Linked DNA regions of Homo sapiens: region 1 is linked to region 2. A link means that fine-mapping ties the variant in region 2 to the expression of a gene that starts in the linked region. Tissue or cell type: fibroblasts. Region 2 holds a variant in brackets; the other region holds the start of a gene. All regions are shown on one strand. Distances are from middle to middle.

Region 1 (8,393 bases), 47 kb after region 2:
CTAGTTGTGCTAAATGATGACGGTCTTCTTTTACACAAAGCCAATCCTTAGAGACTGCTGGAGGGGACTGTTTTTTTCAAGTGGTCAAGTCTCAACAAAAGATCACAAGGCTGTAAAGAAAGAGTGAAACACATCCCAATAAAAAGAAACTAACCTCCAGAAACCAACCCTAAAGAAATGGAGATCTGGCCGGGTAAGGTGGCTCATGCTTATAATCCCAGCACTTCAGAAGGCTGAGGCGGGGGGATCACTTGAGGTCAGCAGTTTGAGACCAGCCTGGCCAACATGGTGAAACCCCATCTCTACTAAAATTATGTGAATTATCCACGTGTAGTGGTGGGCGTCTGTAGTCCCAGCTAGGTGGGAGGCTGAGGCACAATCCCTTGAACCTGGGAAGTGGAGGTTGCAGTGAGCTAAGATCACACCACCGCACTGTAGCCTGGGTGACAGACTCCTGTCTCAAAAAGATGCTAAAGGGAATTCTTTAAATTGAAAGGTAATAACAACATGAAACTATGAAAATATAAAGACTCTGGTAAAAAATACATAGATACAGAATCCCTTAGTATTGTAATGTTTGAACATAAACCATTTTTAAGCCTGCTGTAGAATTTGAAAGAAAAAAACAAAGCTAGGCCGGGCGCAGTGGCTCACGCCTGTAATCCCAACACTTTAGGAGGCTGAGGCAAGTGGATCACTTGAGGTCAGGAGTTCGAGACCAGCCTGACCAACATGGTGAAACCCTGTCTCTACTAAAAATACAAAAATTATCCGAGCACAGTGGCTAGTGCCTGTAATCCCAGCTACTCAGGTGAGGTAGAATCGCTTGAACTTGGGAGGCGGAGGTTGCAGTGAGCCGAGATTGCATCCAGCCTGGACAACAAAGCGACAGACTGTCTCAAAAAACAACAACAACAACAGCAACAAAGCTGGGCATGGTGGCATGTGCCTGTAATCTCAGCACTTTTGGAGGCTGAGGTGGGAGGATCACTTGAGGCCAGGAGTTCGATACCAGTCTGGGCAACATAGGTAGATCCTGTCTCTACGAAACATTTTAAAAAATTAAAAACTGACTGCTATAACTTTTTGGTAGATTAGCCCTTTTATCATTATGTAATTTTCCTGTCTCAATTTTCTTTGTCTACAAAGTCCACATTATCTGATATTAATACAGTAGACCACTTCAGTGCCTTTGACATTGAACTCATGGGTTCTGGGTGACCAGGGTCATTGTCCAATATCAAAAGAACATTCAAGGGCAGTCCCTTACTGGCAAGGTACTTCGTGATTTCACGGACAAAAGCATTAGTGGAACCAGTCCAGAAAAAGTTTCTCATTGTCCAGGCCTTTTGGTTGTGTGCCCAAGAACAGAAAGTTCATCCTTAACCTTTTCCCTCCAAGGCTTGGAGGTTAGCAGCATTGTACATAACAGCAGTTCTGATCATAAACCCGACTACATTTGCACAAAACAGTAGAGAGACTCCATTCCTTCCTACCTTTATTTTTTGTAAAGACAGCATCTCGCCATGTTGCCCAGGCTGTCCTGGAACTTGCGGTCTTGAGTGATCCCCTGACTTCGGCCTCCCAGGGTGCTGGGATTACAGGCATGAGCCACTGTACCCAGCCTGGCCTTTACCTTTCTTACAGCTCTCTGGGATTTGGCATTATTTCAGGTTTGCCAAGAAAATAACATCCGTTTCCAAGATTTAAAATGTTGCTGGTGTGTCCTTACTTGTTTTTCCTGACCTTGTGAATTAACAAGTTTTCAAACAATCTGTTACATTTGCTTTTAGTGGTACAGAGGAGGCAAAATACATTTTTCTTGCGCGTCCTATGTTGGTGGCTGAGACCCCTAAGACAAAAGACAAATTAACAAGAGCAAAACATACAAGTTTCTTTAATACAAGTTTTACATGACACAGCAGCCTACATAAGGAAATGAAGTCCCAAAGAAACAGTTAAAGTTGTGTATTTTTATGCTAAATTTGATGAAGTCACAGAGAAATATAAATGGACAAAGAGGATATGATCTAATAGTAATACACTGGGGGCAACTTAGCAAGGCCTGTTTGTTCAAGAGTTTTCTCTGTGACTGTGTGTCTTCAGCAATAAAGATGTTACTTTCCTCCAGGTATAGGGAGTGCAAATCTCACATGAGAATCTTACGACCTGCTTCAGGGGACGTTAGGAAATTCTTCCTAGGTTTTACAACCTGCTTCGTGGGAGATGTGTGGAAAAGTCCTTCCTGTTTCTGCTGTTTTCTCAAATGATGAGGTGCCATATTTTGGCAGTGAGTGTGTGTGTCCTGAACTATATCAGTACGTGTTAGGAGGGAACAAAATTAGATGTGTTGTACCCAATCTGCCTTCTTTTCTTCTTTACTGTATGCTTTGAAGGCTGCAAAATTTCCTCTAAATATTCCCTTTACCTAAATCTTTTCTAAAAAGTTTCTAGTCTTTTAAAAAATGTTTAGCTTAATTACATTGTCAAAGAATATGGTCTTGTGTGATACCAATTGCTTGAAATGTGTTGAGGCTACTTTACAGACTAGTATGAGATCATTTCTTAAGTAAATATATGCTTTTCCATGTGTTTTCTTCAGTTTTGGGGTGGAGTAGTCTACATGTCTATTCATTAACATAAAACTAATTTTGCTTTTCAAATATTTCATATCTATAGTGACCTTTTTGTCAGCTTTTCTATTAGTTACTGAGAAGGTAGGTTAAAAACTCTGAGGCCAGGGTGGTGGCTGACGCCTATAATCCCAGCATTTTGGGAGGCCAAGGCAGGAGCGTTGCTTGAGCCCAGAAGTTTGAGACCAGCTTGGGCAACAGAGTAAGATCCCATCTGTACAAAAAAGAAAGAAAACAAAATTAAAAATGGGTTCTGCCCATGTTTGCTTTATGTATTTTGTATCTTATGTTATTAAATACATAAAAGTTTAAAATATTTTATTTGCTGGTAAATTAATGCCTTTTTTTTTTTTTTAAGACACTCTCTTGCTCTTGTCACCCAGGCTGGAGTGAGGTGGCGCAATATCGGCTCACTGCAACCTCTGCCTCTCAGGTTCAAGTGATTTTCTTGTCTCAGCCTCCCGAGTAGCTGGGACTACAGGTGCCCGCCACCACGCCTGGCTAATTTTTTTTGTATTTTTAGTAGAGACAGGGTTTCACCATGTTAGCCAGGCTGGTCTTGAATTCCTGACCTCAGGTGATTCACCCACCCGCCTCCCAAAGTGCTGAGATTGCAGGCCTGGCCAGAGAGACGACTTTAGCCGGGGTAAGGGGCCGCCTGGGAACCCCGCGTCCCGCCTGGACACACCGATGACCTGCAGAGGCCACACCGTGGGCCACCTCAGCTGGCCACTGGCACAGCCTTGCCCTCTGGGGCCCCGTTCTCGCACACGCCGACGGCCTGGCCGCACTGCAGCCCCGCAGCCTTGTGGGAAATGTAGTCTGGCGCTCCGGGCTGTAAGCGCCGGTCGCGGCTGTGTCGGTCGCCGCTGCTCCCGCTCCTGCTGGGAGAGGGTGAGTGCGGGGCCGGTGGCGGGGGCGCGCGCCATCCGTGAGTCTTGTAGGCCCCCGCAGGAGGAGCTCCGGATTGCGGGGCGAGGCCCCAGCTTCCTGAGGGTTGAGGGGCGGGCCCGCAGCAGATGGGCCGGGGGTGCGGCCTCACTGCGCCTGTGGAGCGCCGGGCCTCCGGCTCCAGGTGCGCTCCCTCTTCCCCAGGAGCTGGCGGCGGGAGCACGCTGGCAGCTGAGTGTCCTTCGGCGCTGTCCTGGGCAGGCGCCGAGGTGGAATCACAGCCCCGGAGCAGCGGGGATGGGGGCTCGAACAAGGGCCACGCCGGCCACCACGGGTCAGGGAGGGGCCCAAGGTTCCAAGAGTCGCTCGGACCCGGGTTCCTCCCTGGCTTTCCCCAGCCGCGCGCAGCTTTGTCCCGGGACACGCTGCGACCGTGGAGCGAACCTAACCCGCGGACATCCCGGGGATTCTGGGCCAGAGGCTGGGTCTCCCTGTGCAGCATCTGCCCTTTGTGTAAACCGGGTCTCCGGACCCGCCCTCTGGATCTCATTCCGAGAGCGCTGGCGTGGGCTCCCCTCCCATCTCACAATAAGAATGGGGAGGCCAACCTGGTGCAGGTTTCGACCTCGGGGAATCTTTTCTTTTTTTCCTTAAGCGATTTCACTGTAGCACAACTGGAAAATTGAGATTAAAACAATCATTCAAAATCTATCTCCATCTGCATGGCAGCGTGGATATGTGTATAAGCATAGAAACACTTTGTACTTTGTTTTTAAACAGAAATATGAATATTAGCAGCTTTTTCTCCATCTATCTTTTAAAACTGAGTCATGAGATGCATTTGGTAAGGGGTTTGAAGTGCACAAATCTTAAGCCTTGTAATTTTTTACTGGCCTAAACACCCAATGAAGATAGAGAATACATCTGAAAAAAACATTGGAATATGTTGACACCATCTACTTATACCAGATTTTAAATAGAGCTACGTCATTTTAATGAGTGTGAGGGAAAGTATGGATGTGTCGTATTGAATCCTCTCCTTAGGTTTTTGTGTTAGGGTTTTCTTTTTTCTTTTTTTTTTTCAGTATTATAAACAGTATAGGCCATCTGGCTACATACATCTTTGCATTTTGTCTTATTCTATAAATCTCTTAAAGTGAAATTTCTAGGTCCAGGGTACAGTAAGGATTTTGATACCTCCTGTCTTATTCCCTCCAGAAAAGTTGCAGTTTATATAAACACTTGCAGTGTAAGAGTGCCAGATTTACCCACACCAACTGTGAATGTTAGTATTCTCTTGAACTTCTGAGAGGTGCAAAAGATAGGATTGTTTACATTTGCATTTTGAACACTAATGAATATTTTCACGCAGTTTGCATTTTGTATTTTAATTTTGTATCTGATACATAAGCATGTTTCCTGACTGTGCAGAAACGTCACAGGTTCTTATGGTCACACATGAAAACCTTTTCTTCACGTTTGGGTGTTTGACATCACTGGCAGAGAAGCTGTCTGTCCCACGAGATTACAAAAATGTTTGTAGTTTCTCTTAGTACTTTCATTTTTTGTGTACATTTTTATTTTTTTCCAAATGGTAAGCCTTTGTTACAAGTTACTTAGTAATTTTTTCTTCGTTGATATGAAATGTCACTTATTTCATATCTTGAATGAAATATATATATACACACACATACATAAATACATGTGTATTTGAACCATTTAGGTTGGTAGAATTTTAATTTGTTCCATTGATGCTTTTCCCTGTTCGGCTATAACATCCATGATTGCGGAGAGTTTATCTGTTTTATTTACAGCTGTATCCACCCCTACCCCATGCAATGGTGCCTAGTATACAGTAGGTGGTCAACAATGTATCTGGTAAATAAGTCAGTAATATTGTGTTCCAATTCTTGTAGCTTTATGAATACTGGTGGGCAAGTTGTCTCTCATCAGTATTCTTTTTTAAAAAAGTCTTAGTTGTTGTAACACACAACTTAAATATTTTTTCCATAATTAGTGAACTTCTTTTTTTTTATTGAGACGGAGTCTTGCTCTGTCACCGAGGCTAGAGTGCAGTGGTGTGATCTCGACACTGCAACCTCTACCTCCCCGGTTCAAGTGATTCTCCTGCCTCAGACTCCTGAGTGGCTGGGATTACAGGCGCCCACCACCACTCTCTAATTTTTGTATTTTTGGTAGAGACAGGATTTTGCCATTTTGGCCAGGCTGGTCTCGAACTCCTGGCCTCAAGTGGTCCACCCACCTTGGCCTCCCAAAGTGCTGGGATTACAGGCGTGAGCCACCGCGCATGGCCCATATTAACTGTAAAATATTGTTACTTAGGCATAACTTGGCTGGGAATGTGTTAAGTTTATGAATTAAAGAAATGACATCCTGGTATATTGAGACATATTGTGCAAGAATATGTCATGTCTCTCTGTCTTTCGTCTTTGTATAGCTAAATAGGCATAATGAAGTGAACTTAATACATGAAAATCATTTTCTTTATGTAGCTACTATCCAGGTCTTATTTAGTTTATTTATAGGTATTTTCATTGTTGCTGTTGCAGGAGTCTTGTTTCTCATGGCTTCTTTCCCTTCCCTCAGCTCTGCCTCCTTTGGCTTCTGTCCCTCCCCAAGGAAGAACCCCACAGGAAGGAAGGAGAAGGCAATGGCTGCTTGGCCTCTGCCATTGGGAGCTCGGGTGAGCTCATTTTTCCCTCTCAAACCTCCCCCTTCCTCCTGTACTGCATGTGGGCCTCACTGCTCAGGACAGGGTTATTGAAATAGCAGAATGCTGGATATTTTTCACAAAGCCCCCTCTGTGTTCCTGACCTCTGTTCCTAGCTGCCACTTACTCAGCTGGATACCCTGGCCTGCTGTGTTCTTGGTGCTGTTCAAGGGTCAGAAAGGGAAAAAAGTTATATGCAAGCTGGTGCTGGTGCTTATAGGGCTTATGGGCTCTCAGGGATCATAAAAGAGGGCACATCTGCATGGTATACAGTCATAATTGCACCTGAATATGGTAATAAGAACAAGTGTGGTTAGGGACCCAGTTTATCCGTATTCCAAGCTGGAGTGAAGGGGAGGATCAGGGTGGTGGCCAGGAGAAGTAGGTAGTGTTTGCCCATCTCAGGGGTTGGGAAGGGATAACTGGAGAGGATTTGTTATAAGGGAGTCAGTGTGTCCAGAGTTTAAATCCCAGCTCTACCATTTAATAGCTACATTGTCTTGGCAAGAGGCTTGGCTTTCCTGAAACATTATTTTCTCATGGTCATAATAGGAATTACAGCATTACCTGTCTGCCATATAGGTGACATGAAGAACGTCACCTGGCTGATTTCATTTAATAGTAATAGCTACTTCATAGGTCTGTTGAAAGTTCAAATAAAATAATAAAAGTAAAAAATGCCTGGCATGGCTCCTGGAATGTTGAAGTTATTCAGTAAGTTGTAGGCATTCTTAGTATCATCCCAGCCAAGAGCCTGTGTATAGACTTTTAGAGGTGGACTGAAGGGGGCAGTGACTGATAGTGAGAAATGCTCTGCTGGAGTAGAAGAAATCGGATAAAAATTTTAGGACCAAGTGTCGGGAAGGAGGAGTTTGTGTGTTTGGCAGGGTGGTGGCCATGGGGGTGGAGGTCAGTCTGAGGAATTTTGATAAGGGAGTTCGCACAATCAAAACTTTCCTAGGAAAAAGTAGTGTCCGTGAGATGGAGGGAAGCATGGAGCTGGGATAGTAGGTGAGGATTCCAGGCTTCTCTGAAAAAGAAAATAAGGCATCAGAAGACTTGGCCCTAACTTCTTTTTTTTTTTTAAGGTTAAACTTACTTAGCCTTGTTGTCTGGAATACTGAAGACTTAACGGCATTTTCTCTTCTCATAAAAGTATGTATTAGGGGTCGTTGATTTATTAGGATCACTTGTTTATTTATTAGAGACCAGTTTAAAGAAAGCTTCGTGGAGGCAAGTATAAACTGTTGTGATTTCCATTTGTACTGCTTTCTTCAGTATTATCAAACTCAGTTATAAAAGGCAAAATAACTTTTAAAATGGGGGTATTGGACAAAGGGAGTTTCTGGAAGAGGGAAATGTTGAAAGGGGAAGCATTAAGAAGATTTTGGTTGATGACTGTTGTGGTTTGGTTGTCAGTAACCTACATTTTAATTTATGTAGCCAAAATAGTGTTAATTTTTAAATCAGCTTTTTCTGAGGCACAGTTTAATAAAATAACCCAATTTAAGCATAGAATTCATTGAGTTTTGACAAATTTATGCACCAACATAGCCACCACCTCAGTCAAGGTACAGAACTTTTGCATCACCCCAGCCAGCCAGTGTCCTCGTGCCACTTCTACTCCACGTCCCCCTCCCCAGCCAGACAGTGTCCTCGTGCTACTTCTACTCCACGTCCCCCACCCCAGCCAGCCAGTGTCCTCGTGCCACTTCTACTCCATGTCCCCCACCCCAGCCAGCCAGTGTCCTCGTGCCACTTCTACTCCACGTCCCCCTCCCCAGCCAGACAGTGTCCTCGTGCCACTTCTACTCCACGTCCCCCACCCCAGCCAGCCAGTGTCCTCGTGCCACTTCTACTCCACGTCCCCCTCCCCAGCCAGACAGTGTCCTCGTGCCACTTCTACTCCACGTCCCCCACCCCAGCCAGACAGTGTCCTCGTGCCACTTCTACCCCACGTCCCCCACCCCAGCCAGACAGTGTCCTCGTGCCACTTCTACTCCACGTCCCCCACCCCAGCCAGACAGTGTCCTCGTGCCACTTCTACTCCACGTCCCCCATCCCAGCCAGACAGTGTCCTCGTGCCACTTCTACTCCACGTCCCCCACCCCAGCCAGACAGTGTCCTCGTGCCACTTC
Region 2 (8,393 bases):
TGCCTCCGTCACACCCTTTTTTCTTTGTTTTAGTTGAAGAATCTAGGCCTAGCTGATTGAAGAATCCCAGCACTTTAGGAGGCCAGGGCGGGAGGATCGATTGAGGCCAGGAGTTCAAGACCAGCCTGGGCAACAGAGGAAGGTCCTATCTCAAAAAAAAAAAAAAAAATCTATATATGGTACATAGTGGCTCACACCATGGGCCAGGCTGAGGCAGGCAGATCACTTGAGCGAGGCGACAGAGAGACTTTATCTCAAAAAAAAAAAAAAAAAAGAAAGAAAAAGAAGAATCTATATAAATAAGCTGGGGTCCTAGACCACCTCTTTGAGAATTACTCATTCCCTGGATATCCCATGTATATAAGAGGTATACATGTTATTAAACTTCTGTTTTTTTCTTGTTAATTTGTCTTTTGTTTACAGGGATCCCAGCTAGGAACCAGAAGGGTAAAGGGGGAATTATCGTTTACTCCCCTGTACATACAAACCCAACCAAAAAGTTAATGTCACTGTATTTACTTCCAACAAATTAGACTTCAGAACAAGGAAAATAATCAGGGATAAAGAGAGCCATTACAAGTGAAAAGGTGATCAATTCTCCAAGAAGACTTAATAATCCTAAATGTGTACACACCTTCATACACAGAGCTTCAAAGTACTTGAGGCAAAACCTGAAAGAACTGAGAAGAAAAATAGACAAATCCACGATTATAGCTGGCATTTCAACATTCTCTCTCACTAACTGAATGAGAGACTAGCCAGAATTCAGTAAAAATAAAGGCAGCCTGAACAGAGCTTGGCAACCAACTTAACTGGTATTTTTAGAACACTCCATCCAAAAATAGCAGGACACACATTATTTTCAAATGTACATGGGGCCAGGCGTGGCAGCTCATGCCTGTAATCCCAGCACTTTGGGAGGCCGATGGGGTGGATCACCTGAAATCAGGAGTTTGAGACCAACCTGGCCAACATGGTGAAACCTCGTCTCTACTAAAATGCAAAAAAAATTAGCCAGGCGTGGTGGTGCACTTCTGTAGTCCAAGCTACTCAGGAGGCTGAGGTAGGAGAATCGCTTGAATCCAGGAGGTGGAGGTTGCAGTGAGCCGAGATTGTGCCACTGCATTCCAGCCTGGGTGACACAGTGAGATTCCGTCTCAAAAAAAAAAAAATGTACGTGGAACATTGATCTGGACAGATCATATTCTAAGAAATAATACAAACCTGAAGATTGGCGAATAGTCTATAAACTTAAGGAAAGCATTAATTATATTCAATCAAGCAATTTTTTTCTTTACCATGGAATCAGTACTGTTACAGCTATGTGAAAAATCTCAAAGACTCTACAAAAAGAAAAAAATTCCTGGAATTGTAATGAATAAGTTTAGCAACCATACATAGTCAATATACCTAAATAAATAATATTCCTTTATACCTGGAATGGGCAACCTTTTTTCTTTTTCTTTTTCTTTTTCTTTTTTCTTTTTCTTTGAGGTGGAGTTTTGCTCTTGTTGCCCAGGCTGGAATGCAATGGCGTGATCTCAGCTCACTGCAATCTCTACCTCCCAGGTTCAAGTGATTCTCCTGCCTCAGCCTCCCAAGTATGTGGAATTACAGGCACATGCCACCACTCCCAGCTAATTTTTGTATTTTTCGTAGAGACGGAGTTTTACCATATTGGCCAGGATGGTCTTGGTCTCGTGACCTCGCGATCCGCCCGCCTTGGCCTCCCAAAGTGTTGAGATTACAGGTGTGAGCCACTGTGCCCAGCCGGCAACTTTTTTTTTTTTTCTGAAGGGCAAAATAGTAAATATTTTATTTTTGTAAACCATGTGATCTCTGTTGCAACTAACTCTGCTCTTGTAATGGGAAGCACCCATAGACAACACGTAAATAATAAGGGAGCGTGTCTGTGTTCTAGCAACACTTTATTTATGGCCACTCAGATCTGAATTTCAGTTTTCTCAGGTCACAAAAATGCTAGCCTTTTGATTTTTTCAACTGTTTAATAACGTGAAAAATGATTCTTAGCCAAAGAAAAGCAGCAGGTGGGGAATCAGATCTGCCTCATGGGTCACTATTTGCAGACCTTTGTTATATAACAACTGGAATTTTAAATTATAAAAATACCATTTACAATAGCCAAAAAAAAGACAAAATAAAGTACACAGGTATAAATTTAACAAAATATGTGCAGAATCCGTATGCTGAAAACTACAAAACTCTGATGAAGATCAAATAATACTTAAGCCAACAGCTTTTTATGGATCAGAAGGTTGATATTGCTAAGATGTCAATTTCCCCCAACTTGCTCTATAAGTGCAAGGCAATCCCAATAAAAATGCCGGCAGGAATTTGTGCAGATATTGAAAAGCTGACATAAAACGTGTCAACCAACACTTTGATACACTGGCCCCTAGGAAAGTAAGGATTGATGGATTGAAGTACAAATTTTACTTTTTTTCAATACTCTTTTAGTGCGTTTTTTGCACACTCAGTGACTACCCCGCAACCACAGAGGGACCTGGGGAGGAGTAGCCCCACCACCACGCCCAGTTAATTTTTTTGTATTTTTAGTAGAGACGGGGTTTCACCGTGTTGGCCAGGCTGGTCTTGAACTCCTGATCTCAGATGATCCGCCTGCCTTGGCATCCCAAAGTGCTGAGATTACAGGCATGAGCCACCATGCCCGGCCGTCTAATGCTTCTTGGACAATGTGGCATGTTGGTGTTAAAAACAGCCTTATTTTGTACAGATGGTTTGGGAGTGGCTCTAGTGTTTGAACGTCAACTGTTTGGGGACTGTTGCTTTGATTTTAATCCTGTTTGACATGAAATGTTATCCTAGTCTTACTAGTGATGTGTGTAAACTATATACATGAGGATTTACACTTCATGTGGGGAAATGGGTGAGACTTCACCTGTGACTTCCTTTTCTCATTTCACTATGAGGAATATACTGAAGTGCTTGATGTGCGATTGCTTTAGAATTCCTGGTTTTAATGGGATAGCGTGGCTTCTTTGATTTTTTTTTTTTCAGTTACTGTATTTTGCAGTTCTCTTCCAGTCCTTTTTATATTCATCAATGATCTTACACTCCTGCTTCCTCTGCACACTTGACCATAGGCAGTCTTAATTGTAATAGCTGTTTTTTCTGTTTTTTTTTTTTTTTTTTTTTTTTGAGATGGAATCTCGTTCTGTCTCCCAGGCTGGAGTACAGTGGCGCCATCTCGGCTCACTGCAAGCTCCGCCTCCCAGGTTCACGCCATTCTCCTGCCTCAGCCTCCCAAGTAGCTGGGACTACAGGCGCCCACCACCACGGCCGGCCAATTTTTTGTATTTTTTTTAGTAGAGATGGGGTTTCACCGTGTTAGCCAGGATGGTCTTGATTTCCTGACCTCGTGATCCACCTGCCTCGTCCTCCCAAAATGCTGGGACTACAGGTGTGAGCCACTGTGCCCGGCCGTAATAGCTGTTTTAAAGCTTTTCTTCACTAATTCCACCATCCGCATCAATCTGAGTCTTTTTTATTCTCTCTGCTAGCGGTGAATTCTAGCTCTGTCTTGTTGCATGCCTGGTAATTTTAGGTAGAAGACCAGTGTAGGGCCAGAAAGGGGGTGATCTCTTTCCTCGCCATTGTAAAGGATCACAGGTGACACAAAACTGGTTAACAAGAGAAAAGCATGGTAAATTTGTTACATGCACACGTGCCCATGGGATCCACACAAAATGTGAACTCAGAGGGGCAGATGGTTGAGACTTAAATGTCCATGTCATGGGGGAAGGAGA[A/T]ATGGGGGAATGAATAGGTCCAGTGCTCATACAATGGTTCACAGGAACATTGGTTCACAATTGGTGTGACAATGGTTCACACACCAAAGACTGTCATGTTATGCAGATAAAGTTTCTTAGGTAACTTCTTGGAGCTGCCCTAAGAAGAATAGAGGAAAAGTCTGTCTGAATGTGGTGGTGACTGACTCCCCATCTTCTCTCTGGTGGTTAATCTTTCCTGGTTTTTGAGATCCCTACGGAGGGAGTCTAAAGACCATTGCATTTCTTTTGGAAAGGAGCTTTCTAAATTCTAGTGTCCCTCCCTGCTCTTGGAAGAGGAATAAAATAAGATTAGAAGGGCCTTGATTCTGAGGCTGCTTCTAAGGATTTTCAGCATGTCACAGAGCCAATATTTGAGGTTTCAACTTCTGAGTCCCAATGTCAGTGTTAAAACATTTCCGAATACAGATGAAGTGGACTTCCTGTGGTTAAAATGAGACACACACCCAAAACAGAATCTCATGGCCAGAAGGATGAGTTAGGCACATATTTCTGCGTTAATTGCCGTAAGGTTCTTTCCTGTAATTAAGCAGAAACCAACTCCTGAAAAGCATTGCGGAAACAACTACAGCTGGAGAATTTCCCAGCTGACCCTAGGAAACTGCCTGACCCCAGCTGATTGAGCCTGCCTTGACGGTCCCAACACAACTCCAACTGGACAGAGGACTGGCCAAAAAAGCATTGTTTACCGGTAAATAGCCCCTAACCTCAGGGCAGTTTCGGCCATTATAGAGACTGTGGACTAACTGTCTTTGTGCACTACAGTTCACTACTTTTTTATTTTTTTTAAACAGAGTCTTGCTCTGTCCCACAGGCTGGAGTGTAGTGGCGCGATCTCGGCTCACTGCAACCTCCGCCTCCCGGGCTCAAGTGATTCTCCTGCCTCAGCCTCCCGAGTAGCTGGGATTACAGGTGCCCGCCACCATGCCCAGCTAATTTTTGTATTTTTAGTAGAGATGGGGTTTGGCCATGTTGGTCAGGCTGATCTCAAACTCATGGCCTCAAGTGATCCGCCCACTTTGGCCTCCTAAAGAGCTGGGATTACAGGCGTGAGCCACCGCGCCTGGTTACAGTTCACCTTCTGGCATACAGAGACAAAGTCCACATAATTTTAATACTAAAACCCCATCCCAAAGTAAACATGGAATGTTAACATGTTTATCCACTGCACATCCCCCTGGCTTCCCTCATGAATATTCATAGATTTCTCCAACCCTGCTCAATCTGTATGTAAGGTTAACCCTAGAAGACCTAGATACCAACTTCCCCCTCCCTCTGCCAAGCATGCCCTTTCAGGTTTCCCTGGAAGCCATGTTCCCCAATCTGAGAACTGCTTCTTCCTCTGAAGAGAAAGTTTTCTTTCCTTCTTCCATGGATCTCATGTTCTTCGGCTAACACCAGCATTGTGCATTTTATATTTTGGGGGTCTGGGCATTATGTGTTCCTTTAACAAAGGATGGGTTTTGCTCTTTGCTGTTAAGTTACTTGGAAACATTCTTGCTTTAGGGGATTGTTTTTTGGGGGGCCAAGGTGGGCGGATCACCAGAGGTCAGGAATTCGAGACCAGCCTGACCAATATGGTGAAACCCCGTCTCTACTAAAACTACAAAAATTAGCCAGGCATGGTGGTGTGCGCCTGTAATGTCACCATGTTGGCCAGGCTGGTTATGAACTCCTGACCTCAAGTGATCTGCCTGCCTTGGCCTCCCAAAGTGCTGGGATTACAGGCGCGAGCCACTGCGCCCGGCCTGGATGATCTTAAAGTGGAAAGCACAGAGCCCATTTAGGGGGCTTCCTGGCCACATGGGTTGTCAACCTAAATAAGAAACAGAGAGAGGCTCTCTAAAGGAAGTGTTTTTTAGGGAATAGGACATTGCAACAGGAAATACTGTAGTTAAAGTATATCCATATTCAGAGAGGTAAAGCAAGACAAAGGATTTTAAGGGAAAAGTGAGGAGATTACATAATTGTTTTTGAAATAATTATCCGGCCGGGTGTGGTTGCTCATGAGGCCTGTAATCCCAGCACTTTGGGATGCCGAGGTGGACGAATCACAAGGTCAAGAGATCAAGACCATCCTGGCCAACATGGTGAAACCCCATCCTACTAAAAATACAAAAATTAGCTGGACATGGTGGCACCCACCTGTAGTCCCAGATACTTGGGAGGCTGAGGCAGAAGAATTGCTTGAACCCGGGAGGTGGAGGTTGCAGTGAGCTGAGATCGCACCACTGCACTCCATCCTGGCGGCAGAGTGAGACTGTGTCTCACAAAACAAAACAAACAAACAAAAAATTATCCTTTGCTACAAAGATCAATAATAAGGGCGATACCAGGCTGTGTTTGGACAGGCAGTTGCTGGGCAGATGTACTTGCAGAAGTGTTTTTTTATGTAAGGTTGTGATGGCCTTTGTGCAATGTTGTGGTTTTTGTAGAGTCTTTTTCATTCTCAGGCATAAAAGTGTGAGAACCTTCTCTTCATGGCCTTCGTTGGCTTTATTTGTCAGGATTTTCTTAACCTCAGTGACTCCATTTTGATTATGACAATTTTCAAGGGTATTGGGAATGCGGCCTGAAATTTGACTATGGAAATGAAGAGAATGTGATCTTTTTAGGTGACATGTAAAGAATCAAGGATTGCCAGGTGCAGTGGCTCATGCCTGTAATCCCACCACTTTGGGAGGCCAAGGTGGGAGGATCACTTGAGGTCAGGAGTTTGAGACCAGCCTGGCCACCATAATGAAACCCCTTCTCTACTAAAAATACAAAAATGAGCTGATTATTGTGGCAGGACCTGTAATCCCAGCTACTCGGGAGGCTGAGGCAGGAGAATTGCTTGAACCCAGGAGGCGGAGGTTGCAGTGACCTGAGATTGCACCATTGCACTCCAGCCTGGGTGACAGAGTGAGATTTCATCTCAAAAAAAAAAAAATCAAGGATTACACTTGGGCCAATGACATTCAGTTTAAACTGACTTAAGAAGGTACACACAGTCCCTCGCTGTCTGCTCACTGATACTCTCCCTTGACATGAAGGTATGATTCTGAAGAATTGGGTGCTATGCAGTGAATGGTGCCTGAAATACCAGTTTCATTCTGAGTGGGGCCATGAGGGCACCCAGGCCAGCATCTGAGATTCTGAAGCCAGAAAACAATCTCAGCAGCATAGTCCCAGCATTCTTGACCACCCTGTGTACAGCCCTGTTCTGCTTTTTCCCACCATCGGTTCTTACATCTATTAACCCAGCACTTTGGGAGGCTGAGGCAGGCGGATCACTTGAGGTTAGGAGTTTGAGGCCAGCCTGGGCAACATGGTGAAACCCTGTCTCTACTAAAAATACAAAAATTAGCCAGTCGTGGTGGTGGGCACCTGTACTCCCAGCTACTCGGTTGGCTGAAAAAGGAAAATCACTTGAACCCAGGAGGCAGAGGTTGCAGTGAGCCAAGATCACACCACTGCACTCCAGCCTGGGCAACAGAGCGAGACTCCATCTCAAACAAAAAACAAATGTAATCAGAACACTCTGATTCAGACGGTCTGACTACATTACATCCGGGGCTTTTGATAGCAGCAGGACTCTTGTGAGCTTCCGAGACTGCCAGAAGAAAAGAGGAGCAAATACATTTCCACACTCAGGAACCCCCTGACTCACTGCATTCCAGCAGCTCAGAGTGAGTTCCTGCAGACTCCTCTTCTATTTTCTGAAAGGTATTGTGTTAATTTTGGAGTAAATTTTGCTTTAAACACTTGATAGAATTCTCCACTGAATGCATCTGGCCTAAAAATTTTTTTTAGTCTTAAAATTATGATTTCAATTTGTTTTCTTTTTGTTTGGAGACAGCGTCTCATTTTGTCACCTAGGATGGAGTGCAGTGGCGCAATCTCGGCTCACTGCAACCTCTGCCTCCCAGGTTCAAGCAATTCTCCTGCCTCAGCCTCCTGAGTAGCTGGGATTACAGGCGCCTGCCACCACACCTGGCTAATTTTTATATTTTTAGTAGAGACGGGGTTTTGTCATGTTGGCCAGGCTGGTCTCGAACTCTTGACTTGTGATCCACCTGCCTCAGCCTCCAAATGTGCTGGGATTACAGGCGTGTCCACCACTTCTGGCTGATTTCAATTTATTTAATAGTATAGGACTATTCAAATTATTTATTTCATATAAGTGATTTGTGGCAGTCTGTGGGATTTTTTTTGTTTGTTTCTCAGGAACTGGCATATTTCATTGAAGTTGTCAAATTTTATGTTTATAGAGTATTCTCTTATCTTTTTGATGTCTGCAGGATCTGATTTGTGTAATAGCCCTTGTTTCATTACTGATATTGACAAGTTATGTCATGTTCCTTTTTTCCCCGAAGTTTTGCTTCTCAGCAAGAAGTCCTGTTGGGTTGATTCTTTCTCAGCCTTGCTTTAGAGCTGTGCCCCACACATTTCGATATGTTGTATTTTCATCTTCATTCCTTCCATGCATTTTGATTTCCCTTAAGACTTCCTACGGACCCATGGATTATGTAGAAGTGTGTTATTGATTTTCCAAGTATAAAAGTTTTTTATGTTGTCTTTCTG

Alleles and levels. Alleles are on the strand shown, and positions count from the first base shown. SD is a standard deviation of normalised expression in the study named.
In carriers of allele T in region 2, the expression in fibroblasts of the gene that starts at base 3,466 in region 1 tends to be lower than with A alone (small effect, 0.13 SD a copy in GTEx).

What was found. PIP is the estimated chance that this variant, and not a neighbour inherited with it, causes the effect.
Region 1: ZFP2 starts here. The variant in region 2 is fine-mapped to the expression of ZFP2 in fibroblasts (GTEx, PIP 0.96).

Annotation. Positions count from the first base shown.
Region 1 is chr5:178,892,448-178,900,840 of GRCh38, forward strand. ZFP2 (ZFP2 zinc finger protein) reads left to right here and starts at 3,466. Exons shown (of 5, transcript NM_030613.4): 1 at 3,466-3,527. RefSeq lists an enhancer at 3,179-3,368 and silencers at 3,479-3,588, 3,659-3,708.
Region 2 is chr5:178,845,237-178,853,629 of GRCh38, forward strand. No RefSeq gene overlaps it. Among named protein-coding and RNA genes, the nearest start is that of ZNF354B, 11 kb to the right of the region's middle. The variant A/T (reference allele first, on the strand shown) is at 3,789.